3 separate regions of the Homo sapiens genome follow, and regions 1 and 2 are each linked to region 3. The links come from fine-mapping of genetic effects on gene expression. A gene starts in region 3. Each other region holds a variant in brackets. All regions are shown on one strand. Distances are between the middles of the regions.

What was found. PIP is the estimated chance that this variant, and not a neighbour inherited with it, causes the effect.
Region 1: its variant is fine-mapped to the expression of KCNQ2 in left ventricle (GTEx, PIP 0.96).
Region 2: its variant is fine-mapped to the expression of KCNQ2 in left ventricle (GTEx, PIP above 0.99).

The regions. Positions count from the first base shown.
Region 1 is chr20:62,636,080-62,640,866 of GRCh38, reverse strand. It overlaps LOC124904949 (a long non-coding RNA gene), which reads left to right. Exons shown (of 2, transcript XR_007067711.1): 2 at 1-3,222. Among named protein-coding and RNA genes, the nearest start is that of SLCO4A1, 4.0 kb to the left of the region's middle. RefSeq lists an enhancer at 4,371-4,787. The variant C/T (reference allele first, on the strand shown) is at 2,151.
Region 2 is chr20:63,442,834-63,447,094 of GRCh38, reverse strand. It overlaps KCNQ2 (potassium voltage-gated channel subfamily Q member 2), which reads left to right. Exons shown (of 17, transcript NM_172107.4): 2 at 258-348; 3 at 1,731-1,857; 4 at 2,261-2,436. Among named protein-coding and RNA genes, the nearest start is that of KCNQ2-AS1, 3.5 kb to the left of the region's middle. The variant G/CCCTTTGGGGG (reference allele first, on the strand shown) is at 1,592.
Region 3 is chr20:63,469,848-63,474,634 of GRCh38, reverse strand. It overlaps KCNQ2 (potassium voltage-gated channel subfamily Q member 2), which reads left to right and starts at 1,980. Exons shown (of 17, transcript NM_172107.4): 1 at 1,980-2,467. The coding sequence starts at 2,172. RefSeq lists an enhancer at 4,151-4,787.

The DNA.
Region 1 (4,787 bases), 830 kb after region 3:
GCTGGAGAAGCAATTCAAATGTCAGAAGCAGGACTGGACTCTGTTTCCAAAACTCACGTCTGGATTCTACCCCCTGAAAACATTATTTACACAATGTTTTTCCTTTAAACAATTCACACATTTGATTAAAAGGGTAAGTTTATTTTTTAAAAAGTCAGTGTCAATTACCACAAAGAGGTCACCATAAAAATAGATAAAAAGAAACAAAATGGCATTAAATTCTAGCCAAATATTGCTGCCTGTGGAGGGCTCCCGGCCTGAGACCCGCCTCAGACCCCACCAGGCATTCTTTGGGATTCCTGCATAGGCACCATTGGAAAGGTAAATCCAGAGCAAACATTTCAGGTACATTCGTGCAAAATGCAGGCCCTCAGTCCTGTCCTCAAAGGCAAATGCTGGTGCCCAGGCTCCTCAAGAGGCCCCTAGGAGCACCAGGAGGCCTTGACCCAGGTGAAGGGTCCTGCCGCAGGCCATCAAGGGGGTCTGCAGGTCTGGCCCAACTCCAGGCCCTGCGTGGTGGGGTCCATCTGCACCAGCTTTCGGGAGCCGACTGTGTCCTTACTCTTGCCCTAGAGGACTCGGGGGTCAGCTACAGAGCACAGCAGTGTCTTGGAACAAGGGCAGCCTGATTATGTGCCCTGGAACATTCTGAACTCAATAAGTTCTATCCCAGCAGGGCTTTTTTTCTTTCTTTTCTTTTTTTTTTTTCTTTTTTGAGAGGAAATAATTAAAAGAAAAAGAAAGCGAGAACCCCCTGGCTCCCCTGTGGCCTTGCAGGGTCGTACTGCTGCCTGTCCGGGCGGCTTCAGGAGGCTCGGAACAGATGCTGCACATTTGTGGGCCACTTACTGTTCTCTGACATCATCTTTAGAGGCACCTCAAAGAGCTGAAATGTGACAGCCTGTATTTCCACCTCCCTCTCTCTTTATGGACATTGTCACTTGGAGGAAAATCGATCTAAAGATCAGAAGAGAAGTGTAGAGAGAGAAGAGAGAGAAACGCTGTCAGGTCAAGGGGCAGGTTAATGGCCAACCCAGAAACAGCGTGGGATCCCGGTGCCTCTGCCTGGAGGGTCCAGCCTGGAACACACATCATTCCTAGCTTTGACCAGGAATGGTATCCAAAAAATGACCTCACTTAGCTATTAGTACTTGATTGGGATAATACTTAAAATCCTGCTAATATTTCTGTGGTTGCTTCCATTCTGTAGTCATAGTTCATTTCTATTTTCTATGAATTTGGCGTATGTCTTAGCCAACTCATTTGAAACTGCCTGTCCTTCCTTGACTTATAAAAAAATGGCCATTTCAGCTTCGTGATAATGGGCAAGTCTCAGAAATGATGAAAACATCATTTAATTGTTTCATTATTTCAAAGTCTCAGGCTGTGGCCATGTGGTGGAGGCTCTAGAGAAAGTTTCTAAAAAATATTTTAAAAGTTACGACTGCACTGTTTTGCATGAGAAAGAGGATTTTGCTAAAGATTGAAGGCGATCGGGCTGCAGGCGAAATGTGGCTTGAAGTCCCCAGCTCCAGAGTGGCACGTTTCAGTCTGTTAAATGCTGTGTTCAGGTGAGGAGTTAGGATCATGGTACAACCCAGATGTGGGCTGGCGGCTGGCACACAGCTTAGCAAAGAAGAGACGCACAAGGCCAGAGTGGCCTTAGGAAAAACTCAGCCTGGAGTTGTCCAAATGTCCGCGATGGAGGAGTTTCATGGGGGAATTAAGATTGTCAGGTTAGGGAAGGGCACAGGTAGCTGGGAGGCTCTTTGGTAGCAAAATTCCATAGAAGATAAAAAGCATGTTCTCTCTTGGAAATCATCAGTCCATCCTGTCGGAGCCCCTTTGGAGCAGGGTGTGGCTGGAGGGCCTGGCTTGCTGGCCACGCCTCAGTCACAGCATTGGCTTTCCTGCGCTTCTGCTTCCTGCTCTTCCCGGTGATCTGCGTCCTGCGGGGCGCACAGCAAGCCCTCCGTGGGACGAAGATCTTCGTCTTCCATCCACGCTGCTTTGCTCACCTGCGACATGACCTGAGGCTCTGGCCCTGCTGAGCTGGGCCCTTGGCCAGTGCTGTACAAACGCCATCCACCATCTGGTGACAGCAGCCTAGCAATTGACCAACAGAGGCCTCCCACTGTCCTCCCTCCTGC[C/T]GCCCTCCCTCTGCATCTCCCAGAGCAGGACGACTCCAGGGAGACAGACTCAATTCAATCTTTTTCTGTTTCAGAGAATCTGTCACCATTAAAAGCAGCTACCAGGGAATCTGATTCCATTGCACCAGGTCTCAGGTCTCAGGTCTCAGGCGTTCTTCCAAAATGCTGGTGGATGGTGGGCTCTCGCCCTGGGATTATAGATGCCCAGATAAACCATATGTAAATAACACTGCATTTAACCCGCCGACAAAGGGTGGCCTTCTTGACGGTGGTGAAGGAAGTTTTGACCCAGGAGAACAGAGGTCGTCATTCACAAGCACTAGGGTCCGGTGAAAGCACAGGCTTCAGCGTCTGGACAGGCAGCTACATGACGGTATCATGTTCTCTTTAGAAGCCACCAACTGATTCCTGTGTGTTCAGAGCCTGCTGTTAGAGATTAGGTGTGGGGTAGAAAAAATTGGAATCTGGACTTCCCTGCCTGGCGAGATGGCCCTGAGCTCTGAGACATGACCTGAGGACACCTGGAGTGCCCTGAGTTCCAGGGGACACATAGCAGCCAAGTGGGGAAGAGGCCACTGAATGCCGGTGGCTCCGTGGCAAAGGCACATGGAGCTGTAGGAAGAGACATGCTGGGGCCCCCAGCACCTGGAGAGCAGCAGCCCTGTCCACACCTGGGGCCTTGGCTGCCCACAGCCTCTCTAGAAGGGTCATCTGAATTTCACTGGTGATCTGCTTGTGAGGTCTTCTGCATACACTCTTACTTACAAAGAGGCAAACGTCTGCCAGCCCAAGGGCTTCTGGAACTGCCTCGGTCTGCCTGGCTCCTGAGCCTCCCCGCGGGTCTGGGGGTGGAGGTGTTCACAGGGTTCACTTGGCTGAGACCTCACATTCTGGAAGGGCCTCGTGTTAGGTGAGTGATTATCTTAGCTTCCAATACAACTGTGCATGCAGTCCGGACCCGCCGAGGCACAGACCCATCAGGTCTTCTGCTAACTCTCATCCCGGCCCACCCAGCATGACTAGCAAGATTATATTGCATTGAGAGTGTTTACAGTAAAAGCGTTAAATGTAATCATTTACCTTGTTGGCGATTGTTTGCAGCCCTCTTTGAGCATTCATTCCCTCATGTTTCATTTGCTGAGACTTTGGCAAATGGAAGTGGGCAGTCCCTGTCCCCATCTCCAGGGCCCTGCCTTGGCACCTTCCCCACCAAGCTGACACCTCTGTGAGCTTCAGAGAAGCTAGAAGCTTTGGAGCTTTGTCCAAGGACATGGACACCCCATTGCAGCCTCACTCACTTGGGGGTGAAAGGAAGGTGACCTGCCCAGCCCTTTCAAAGTTCCCTGACAATGTGCAGAGCTCCCTGGCTGTGTGCAGAGCTCGCTGACCGTGTGCAGAGTTCCTGGCTGTGTGCAGAGATCCCTGATGGTGTGCAGAGTTCCTGGCCGTGTGCAGAGCTGGCTGACCATGTGCAGAGCTCCCTGGACGTGTGCAGAGATCCCTGGCCATGTGCAGAGCTCATTGTTGGGGGAAGTCAGGTGATAGAACCCAGAGGCACAAAAACAGGGATGCCCACAGGTCCCTGAGATTCCTTCTTGGGCGGTGTCTGCTGTCCCCAGGGTCCCGTGACCGTGGAAGGCACCATGACCATGTCCATCTTGTGCCAACCTGCTCTGCCCTGGAACATGTTGCCCAGGGCCTGGGTGGACTGTCAGAGCTAGTGAACGATATTTAAGCCTACACAGGGGCAAGGAATCTTCCAGAACTTTCTGTGTTTAGGTGCCACGCAGTCAGCATCCTGCAGGCAAGCCGGACCCTTTCCCACGTAGGAGACTCACAGAATTTTCATCTTCCCCATCACAAGGTAGAAATGGGCTTTTCTGGCTCACTGAGAGGCCTGGATGTTCTACTTAAACCCCAGGAACGTGGAGCTCTAGAGGAGATTAGAAGAGCCAGCTCAATTTCCTGACCCCAGATGGTTTGTTCCATCTGCAGGAAGGGGGTGGCTCCTGCGTACGGGGCCCAGGGCTGAGTCGGCGGCGCGTGCTGCACCTCCCTGGGGTGCCTTCCTGGGCTCTCTCATCCCCCGGCCACTCCTCTGGCTGGCGCTGGAGCCAGGCCTGCTGGGCCCCTTTGTGCCGTCACCCGTCACAGAGCCTCGATTCCCCCAGACATGCTCCCCGCAAATCCTTCCAGACGCTCTAGCCAAGCGGCTGAGGTTGTCAGAAAACCTGGGCACTCCCAGCGTCTGTGGGGCCACCTCCCCTCCCTACCCGCACTGCCCTCCCCTCCTCCGCTGCCCTCCTGGGCAGACGCCCACCCCGGCCCCTGAAGAGGCAGCCACATCCCCCTTTCCTTCCCAGGGCTTATCCTGTTCCCTGTCTTTCCATCCAAGCCCCCACACCAGGTCCCCCGTCCTAAAATGCCGTGAATTCAGTCTGTTCGCTCCATTCGCTCTGCTCCACTGAGGCACCCCTGGGAGAGCAGCTTCCTCTGGAAAAAGTGTCCCCTGCTTCTCAAGTCCTCACCCCACCGTCACCTACTCCGCCTCGGCAGCCTTCAGGGCAGGCCTAGCCCCGGCCACACCCTGGCTTCTGTGGCCGTCTGTGTCCTGCACAGCCCCCGGTCATGTCTGCA
Region 2 (4,261 bases), 27 kb after region 3:
CTGGAGGGGGCAGCTGCGCATAGAGGGGGCAGCTGCCACTGTGGAGTTCAGGGTCCCGGGAGGTGGCTATGGGGGTGCCCTCTGGCCCGAGCGAGCTCTGGTGGGGTGGGTGGGGAGTGGGGTCCTGCGTTCTGGAGACGCGGCCATGCTGGTGCCCTGCTGCGGCCTGGTGGGGAGTGGGGTCCTGAGTTCTGGAGACACAGCCATGCTGCTGCCCTGCTGCGGCCTGTCTGAGAGCGCGCGTTCCCTGCCCCCAGGTTCCTCCTGGTTTTCTCCTGCCTCGTGCTGTCTGTGTTTTCCACCATCAAGGAGTATGAGAAGAGCTCGGAGGGGGCCCTCTACATCCTGGTGAGCCCCGAGGGAGGGCGGGGGCTGGAAGTGCCCAGGAAGGAGCTGGAGCTGCCTGGGCGTCTGTCTTCCGTTCCTGTTACTACAGGGCCTCTGACGCCCCCAGCCCCAGCTCTGGCCATGTCTTTGTGCCCTGTCAGTTCCCATCTGCCCCCAGCCCCACAGCCCGGGCTATGCCCCAGCCCCACCCTGGCTGTAACTCAGCCCTCACCTCACCCCTCCTGGTGACCTCACAGTGGCTGACAGCCCCGCCTCCATCGCCCCCACCCTGGGTGGGCCACCCTCCCTTTCCCATCCCCACTTTATCTCTGGAGCCGGAGATGTGGGGCGTCCCCAGCAGACGGCAGACGTGGGCGTCGGGGTGGGGGCTGTGACGCTTGCAGCAACCCTGTGCCAGGGCAGGGTGGGCGCCATGGCAACGGGAGTGCAGTTCCTGTGTTGCTGTTGGTAACGGGGTGGGGGGCCCTCAAGGAGACTGGTCCCCATCCAAATGCACCTCCCTCTACTGCCCGCCCTGCTCCTCTGTTCTGGGGCTTCCCAAGGTCTGGGTGGAGACTGTGGCCCCCTTTGCAGTTACCTGGGGCCTTCCCTCAGCTCAGCCCTGCTGTGCACCCCCCAACTCAAGGCAGGTCCCCCACTGGCTCAGACAGGGTCCCCCAGCTCAGACAGGGGCCCCCAACTCAGATAGAGTCCCCCAGCTTGGACAGGGCAGCTCCCCAACCAGCTCAGACAGGGTCCCCCAGCTCAGACAGGGTCCCCCAGCTCAGACAGGGTCCCCCAGCTCAGACAGGGCCTCCCAGCTCAGACAGGGTCCCCCAGCTCAGACAGGGTCCCCCAGCTCAGACAGGGCCTCCCAGCTCAGACAGGGTCCCCCAGCTCAGACAGGGTCCCCCAGCTCAGACAGGGCCTCCCAGCTCAGACAGGGTCCCCCAGCTCAGACAGGGCCTCCCAGCTCAGACAGGGTCCCCCAGCTCAGACAGGGTCCCCCAGCTCAGACAGGGCCTCCCAGCTCAGACAGGGCCTCCCAGCTCAGACAGGGTTCCCTAGCCCAGATAGAACCCCCTAGCTCAGACAGGGCAGCCCTGCCAGCTCAGACATGGTCCCCTAGCCCAGATAGAGTCCCCAGCTCAGACAGGGAGGTGGGGAGGGTGGCCCCATGGTGTTCATGCTCAGCTGTGTTCCCGGATGCAGGGTCTCCAGAGGGCCCAACCCTTCCTGCCCAGAGGCTGGAGAGGGGTGGGGG[G/CCCTTTGGGGG]GTCAGCTTGCAGTTTCCTTTGGGGGCCTCCTGCCCTGTGGCTTGGTCCCTGGGCCAGAACTGCTCCTGTGGGTGTCCAGGCTGGGCCCCCAGGCCCTCCCCCAGGCCTCAAGGTGGCCTCAGCTTTCCTCCCCTGCAGGAAATCGTGACTATCGTGGTGTTTGGCGTGGAGTACTTCGTGCGGATCTGGGCCGCAGGCTGCTGCTGCCGGTACCGTGGCTGGAGGGGGCGGCTCAAGTTTGCCCGGAAACCGTTCTGTGTGATTGGTGAGGCCTGGTGGGGGTGGTATTGCTAGAATCAGGGCCAGGCACCCAGGGACGGACTCAGCCCTGGGGGGAGCTGGGGCGTCTGCGTGGGCCAGAGAGGCTGGGCAGGACTGGCTCCTTCTGGAAGTTTCTTTTCACCTGCTGACTTGGAGTCAGAGGCTGTGGTTAACTCTGCCTAAATGTCAGGAAGAGGAATGTGGCGCTGGGCTGCCCATCCTGGGCCCCACAGGCAGGGTGGACGATAGTAATGTCCTTCCTGGGGCCTGACAGAGCCCACACCAGGCGCTGGGCATACACCTTCCCGCCCCTCTGCACATCCTCCTGGAACGCGGGGTGGGGAGTTTTCTCCAAGGGGGTGCGGGGAGCGGCCCAGCAGCTCACCAGCTCCACGCCCGCTTTGTAGACATCATGGTGCTCATCGCCTCCATTGCGGTGCTGGCCGCCGGCTCCCAGGGCAACGTCTTTGCCACATCTGCGCTCCGGAGCCTGCGCTTCCTGCAGATTCTGCGGATGATCCGCATGGACCGGCGGGGAGGCACCTGGAAGCTGCTGGGCTCTGTGGTCTATGCCCACAGCAAGGTGAGTCACGGCCCCAAGGCTGGCGGTGGGCGCCCCCAGCCAGCGAGAGTCCTGGCCCAGACCGGGCCCCACCCCTGCCTGGGGTTTGCTTCAAGAGCCCTGGGTGGAGGGATGGAGTCAGTGGTGGCTCTGGCTGGAGCCCATCAGGTGTGAACGAGCCTCCCTCCCCTTTCTTCTCGGTGCTTCTTCTCGTGACTTGGGCCATCTTTGTCATCTGTCTCCAGAAAGCTGCTTTTTCGAAAGGCCAGGCCAGGCCATTTTGGCCCCTGCCACCCCCACCTTCCTGCCGCGAACCCTTGGCTCTGTGGTTGGGTGTCTTCTTTCCTGGGTTTTTAGTGCCTGGATCAATACAAAGTGCTAGTCACCTGCCTGGTGGTTGTTTAAGCTGCGGCTTGCGGCGGCCGCTGTCCGGGGGACCCAGAGGGTGGCTGTGGCCACACATGCTGAGTTCCAGGGGCCCCAGGCCCCCCAGTGACCGAGACCCCATCCTGCCAGACTGTGCTGTCCCTCCACCTTGCTCACGGGTGGGCTCATTTGCTCAAATGGCCCCCTCCCCATTTTCTTCCCTCTTGAGCCCTGGCAGGGTGGTGGCTTTGTCTGCAGAATGGGCAGGGGTCAGCCCCCGGTGGCCCCTCTCCCTCCCTGGACGCTGTGGGGGTTGAGTGCTGACTGCAGTGGGCACCCTTTTCACATCTGTGCCCGGAGGCTCAGGGAGGTTGGGGGAGGGTCTCAACAGTCCCAAGATTCTCCAGCCCTGCTGGCCGCCAGAATAGACGCTACTGACCCTGGAGGGCACGGTGGGCTGGCCGTGCGAGCCACTGTTGCCCAGGCCAGGAGGCTCAGGGGAATGGGCTGCCGTAGCTAAGATGGTGAAGCCAGCGGCGCCTCCTGGTTCCCCTGTGCCAGCCCTGCCACCGACCCTGGCGTGGAGCCTCTGCTGGCCTCAGGAGACGGGTCCATCCAGCCCCTATATCCCTGGAGACAGAGCCCAAAGTGGGCTGACTGGCGAGGCTGCAGTGCTCCTGGAGGCAGGTGGCGGGTGGTGATGGTGGTGAGGGTGATGGTGGTGATGGTGGTAGTGATGGTGGTGGTGGTGGTGATGGTCATGATGGTCATGGTGGTGGTGGTGGTGATGGTGATGGTGGTGATCGTGGTGGTGGTGATGGTGATGGTGGTGGTGATGATGGTGGTGATGGTGGTGATGGTGATGGTGGTGGTGATGGTGATGGTGATGATGGTGGTGATGGTGATGGTGGTGATGGTGATGGTGGTGGTGATGATGGTGGTGATGATGGTGATGGTGGTGGTGGTGGTGATGGTGGTGATGGTGATGGTGGTGGTGGTGATGATGGTGATGGTGGTGGTGATGATGGTGATGGTGATGGTGGTGATGATGGTGGCGATGGTGATGTGATGGTGGTGATGGTGATGGTGGTGATCATGGTGGTGGTGGTGATGGTGGTGGTGGTGGTGATGGTGATGGTGATGTGATGGTGGTGGCGCCGGTGATGGTGGTGGTGATGATGGTGGTGGTGGTGATAGTGGTGGTGGTGATGGTGATGGTGGTGATAATGGTGGTGGTGGTGATAATGGTGATGGTGATGCTGATGATGGTGATGGTGGTGGTGATGTGATGGTGGTGGTGATGGTGATGGTGGTGATGGTGATGGTAATGGTGGTGATGGTGGTGGTGGTGGTGATGGTGATGATGGTGATGGTGGTGGTGATGGTGATGGTGGTGATGGTGATGGTGGTGGTGATGGTGGTGATGGTGGTGGTGATAATGGTGATGGTGATGGTGGTGGTGATGGTGATGGTGGTGGTG
Region 3 (4,787 bases):
TGTGGATCAGCCCTGACCTTGGGTCCCACTGGGCTCTGACATCAAACCTGAGATGACTGCTTGCCCAGGAGAGGTCACGTGTAGCCCGGGCACTGCCGAGGGGCACCGGATAGTCTGGGGCTTCCCCCCACAGGATGAGGGGCCCCAGCCCTGCAGGGTTTACATTTTGAGCTACGGCTGCTCCCTCGGGTCTTCTGGTGAGTGGGAAAGACCAGCGGCACCAGCCAGCGTGTGCAGGGAGATGCCACGGTGCTCTCTTCCTTCTGCATACTGAAGTCCTCTCCCTCCCCTGAAAGCACCAGGCTGGTGCCTCCTCCCTTAACAATCGAGAGAAACCGCAGCCGCTTGGGGCAAGCCCACTTCATGCTGGTAATCACAGCCAATGCGTGGGCACAGAGGCAGGGAGGCGGGGATCCAGAAAGTACCCCTGGATGTGCACAAGCTTGTGTAAGTTGCCGTCTATCCCCAACGTCCTGGATAACGTACAGGTTAGCATTCTGCCTGCACCGACCCTTCTGTATTCAGCCTAGTTAAAAACAAAACAACAACAACAAAAACAGGCCCCGTGGCCACTAGCTCTGGAAACCAAAGGGCAAACACAACTCAAGAGCTCACTCTGCACCAGGGTTAGGGCTGTTTTATGAGCAGGTCACCTGCGAGGACGGCGCCAGCGATTCAGCAGAGGGCCTTTCTCTGGGTAGAACCCATGGTGCCAGGCGAACGTGCAAACAGGCTGGATGTAGTCAGAGACGCACTCGAAGATGACACCCCTCCTGGATGTGCAGAGGAAGGCCCAGTGGCGGGGCACCTCACAGGGCGGGCAGCACTGAGCCGCAGGGGTCCCTTGGTCTCCCAGCAGCAGCTCCAGAGGGACCCCTCCCAGGACACATGGCTGCCGGCAGGGGGGAGGCCACCTCCGCGCACTTGCCCCCAAGGAAACACCGTCCCATCTGTGTCCAGGAGGCACAGATCTGCCTCCTTTGTCCCGAGGTGTGGCACTGGGCTTCCTGCTGGCCTGTCTGCTGCCCTGGGGCCACCCTCCAGTCCCTGCCCCTGCCACAGGCCCCTTCTGGGGTCTGCATAACTAAGTCCAGGCCCCTTGGGGGGCTTCAAGGCCCTCTAGGAGTGACTCTCTCCCATCCCCCACCCCATGGCCCTTGCTCCTCTTCTTGCCTCCCGGCCTCTGTGGCCACCCCCTTTCCCCTGGGCTGCTTTCCTTGCAGGGTGCCTCCAGCCTCCACAGACCCTCCCTGCACACACCCTGGGGTCTAGGGGGTCCTACTGCCTGGGCAACCCTGACACCGAGAGCATGAGGTCACCATGGGCTGAGCCCTAACAGAGTCTTGGGGAGAGCCCCTACCCCCATCCCTTCCCGGAGGCGTCCACTCCCAGGGCCCAGCTGAGAAGACTCCAGTCCTGCTCAGGCGGCTGGGCACCGCTCTGGGACCCCAGGAGCGCTGGGGCCACCAGGCAGGTCCACTTGGTTAGTACTACCGGACTCAAAGGTGACCGCAGGGTCAGTGTGCACATGGCCGGGGGATTGGGCAGGCTCAGCCCAGAGCTCTGGTCCCGCGGGCCTTGGTCCCTTCTGCCTCCCCCTCCTCTCCCCCTGCCCTCCCCTCCCCCTCCCCCACTCCCCCTCCTCTCCCCCCTCCCCTCCCCCTCCACTCCTGTCTCCCCCCTCCACTCCTGTCTCCCCTCTCCCCGTCCCCGCCACTCTCCTCCCCTCCCATTCCCCTCTCCTCCCCTCCCCCTCCCCTCCTGTCTCCCCTCTCCCCGTCCCCTCTCCCTCCCCTCCCCTCCCTTTCCCTCTTCTCTCCTCCCCTCTCCTCTCCTTCCCCCCTCCCCTCCCCTCCCCGTCCCTCCCTCTCCCCTCCCTTCCCCTCCCTCTCTTCTCCTCCCCTCTCCTTCGACTGGCGTCGCGGGGGTTAACGCGGGGCGGGGCGAGGCGGCGGGCGGAGCCGGCGCGGCCGCGGGCCAGGCGCCGAGGTGCGCGCGGAGCGAGGTGGCCGCAGCGTCTCCGCGCGCGGCCCAAGCCCGGCAGGAGTGCGGAACCGCCGCCTCGGCCATGCGGCTCCCGGCCGGGGGGCCTGGGCTGGGGCCCGCGCCGCCCCCCGCGCTCCGCCCCCGCTGAGCCTGAGCCCGACCCGGGGCGCCTCCCGCCAGGCACCATGGTGCAGAAGTCGCGCAACGGCGGCGTATACCCCGGCCCGAGCGGGGAGAAGAAGCTGAAGGTGGGCTTCGTGGGGCTGGACCCCGGCGCGCCCGACTCCACCCGGGACGGGGCGCTGCTGATCGCCGGCTCCGAGGCCCCCAAGCGCGGCAGCATCCTCAGCAAACCTCGCGCGGGCGGCGCGGGCGCCGGGAAGCCCCCCAAGCGCAACGCCTTCTACCGCAAGCTGCAGAATTTCCTCTACAACGTGCTGGAGCGGCCGCGCGGCTGGGCGTTCATCTACCACGCCTACGTGTGAGTGGCCGGCGGGGCCCCCGTGGCGACCCCCATGGCGACCCCCATCGGCGACCCCATCGGCGACCCCGGCCAGGCTGGCTGCGGCGGGTTTGGCTCCCTGCCCCTGGGTCTGGGTCCGGGGCCGGCGCTCCCCGGCGGGAGTGCTGGGCCGAGACCGGAGAGCGATTGTACAGCGCGCGGGCAGGAAGGATTCCGGGGTCGGGGCCGCTCAGGTCGGGGTGGGGGCTCCAGGCCCGCAGGACAGAGACGTGCGGCCGCCCCAGCCCCCTCCTCAGCCTGGGAGGCCCCTCCCCGCGGCCTCTGCGCCGAACAAAGGGCCGGCCGGGGAGGGACGGCGGCAGCGCTGGGTCTGGACTCTCCGGGACTCTCGGGGACCCGCGGGGCTGGGGCCGCCCGACCAAGCGAGGGCGGGGGGGAGGGGTCTGGCCTGTCCTCCGCCATCCTCCCGAGCCGCTCTCCCTCAGACTAGGGTGAGCTTCTGGGTTCCTGAGATGGGGGAGGGGCCCTCCCATGACCCCCCCACCCCAGCCCGGGCTGAGCGCAGCTGTCTGTCCTGCCCCCTCGGCGCCGACGCCCCTCCCTGGCCCCGCGAACCCCCTCAGCTCCTGCGCTCAGCTCCTGCGCTGTCCCATCTCTGCAGCCGCCGGCCGCCCCCGTGCACATCCCGGGCTCAGGACCCCTCCTTGGCAGAGCGAGGCCCGGGGGAGGGGCTGCGGCAGACCTGGGACCCCCAGCCCTGGGCCTGGAAGGGGCTGTCCCCTCTTCCCGGGCGAGGCTCAGGGAACGGCTGCCTCCTGGGGCAGGGCTGGCGGGGGGCGGCCGAAGCCTGCGTCCGTGTGCACCTGGGTGTTCGCATGTGGAATTGCACGGCCCGCTGCGTGTGCGGCCTGTGCGGCCGGTGTGCACAGCCTCCCCGCGCCAGGGCGCTTGCTCTCCCATCCCAGCTGAACAAGGGACCCGCTGAGCTCCGGGACCGGCCATTTTGTGTGAGAGGCATTTTGGGATGGGAGTGAGGGGCAGACTGGTCACAAGCTGGTCGGGCGCCCACCTGGGCCGAGAGGGGTGTGTGCCCCACGAGTGTGCCCCAGCCTGCGTGTGGCCTTGAGTGTGCCCTTAGCAGACCCTCCGTGGACTGTGATATGAGAGGGTTCTGGGGTAGGGAGAAGATCCCAGAGGGAAATGCCAGGCCGCTTACAGGGAGGGTGTCTCCGTGGAGGGCCCCTGGGCACCCAGCCTGGGACTCCCCAAGCAGAAGCTTCTCCGACCTCCTGGGTCCTGGAAGCCCTGTGGCCCCCAGGAGGTGAGTCTAGCTTTTCCAGTCCAGGGTTCATTCCCGAATCCCCAGATGAGCTTCTGTGTTCTCAGGAATGGCCTCCCCTGATGGCCCCCACCTGGCTGGGGGCCAAAGGGGCTCTTGGTGGGCCGGTACTGGTCAGCCAGGTCCCTGCCCAAGGTGACTCCCCGGAGGAGGGTAGGATAGAACCCACCCCCACAACCCTCCTGCCCTGACAGCCTGGCCAGCGCCCCGCTCTGCGTCTGACCCAGGGTTGGTTCTGCTTTGAGTCCATGATCCAAGGGCCCAGCGTGGCTGTTCCTGAGGTTTCCCGTTGGGTCAGCAGCTCTCCGCATGGCCGCCCCCTGCCTGGGCCTGCGTGGGTCAGCCCCTCTGTCTCTCCTTCCTGTCTCTGCCTCCTGAGAGCAGCAGTCCAGAACTGGGGCAAAGCATGGGGACACTTGCACATGTGGGGTCTGAGCCGTCTCTTCCTGACCACCCCCAGTCCGGACGGGCCCCCTCTAAGATAGAGCAGCAGCATGCGGGGGCTTCAGGCGAGACCCTCAACGTCTGAACAGCCCCGCCTTCCAGCCTGCACTAGGCCTCTCCTCAGCTCCTTTGCTGTGGGCACGGAGCTCCCTGAACCTCCCTGAGCTCCCAGGCTCTCCTCAGCTCCTTTGCTGTGGGCAGGGGTGGCTTGGACTCAGGGAGGCGGCCCCTTTGGGAGGGGGATTTTTTCTAAGCGGCGGGGCTGGAGAGCAGGGTTTCTGGTCCTGCCTCGGGTTGGACACTGGGGGCTGGTCTCAGAACCTCTGCAAACCTCAGTTTTCCGTCGGTAACGTCGGCACAGCTGCTTCTCAACCCAGGGCTTTGTGAACACCACTGCTGGGGGGCATCACACTCTTCCAGGCCGGCCCAGTGCCCTCTGTGAAAGGGGATGTGGCTCAGCACTGCTGGTGCAGCTCACCGCCCGGCTCCCAGACCCCTGGTGTGGTGTTTGCTGCTGTCCCCGTGGCCCAGCCCATCCTTGGAGTGCAGCCCCCA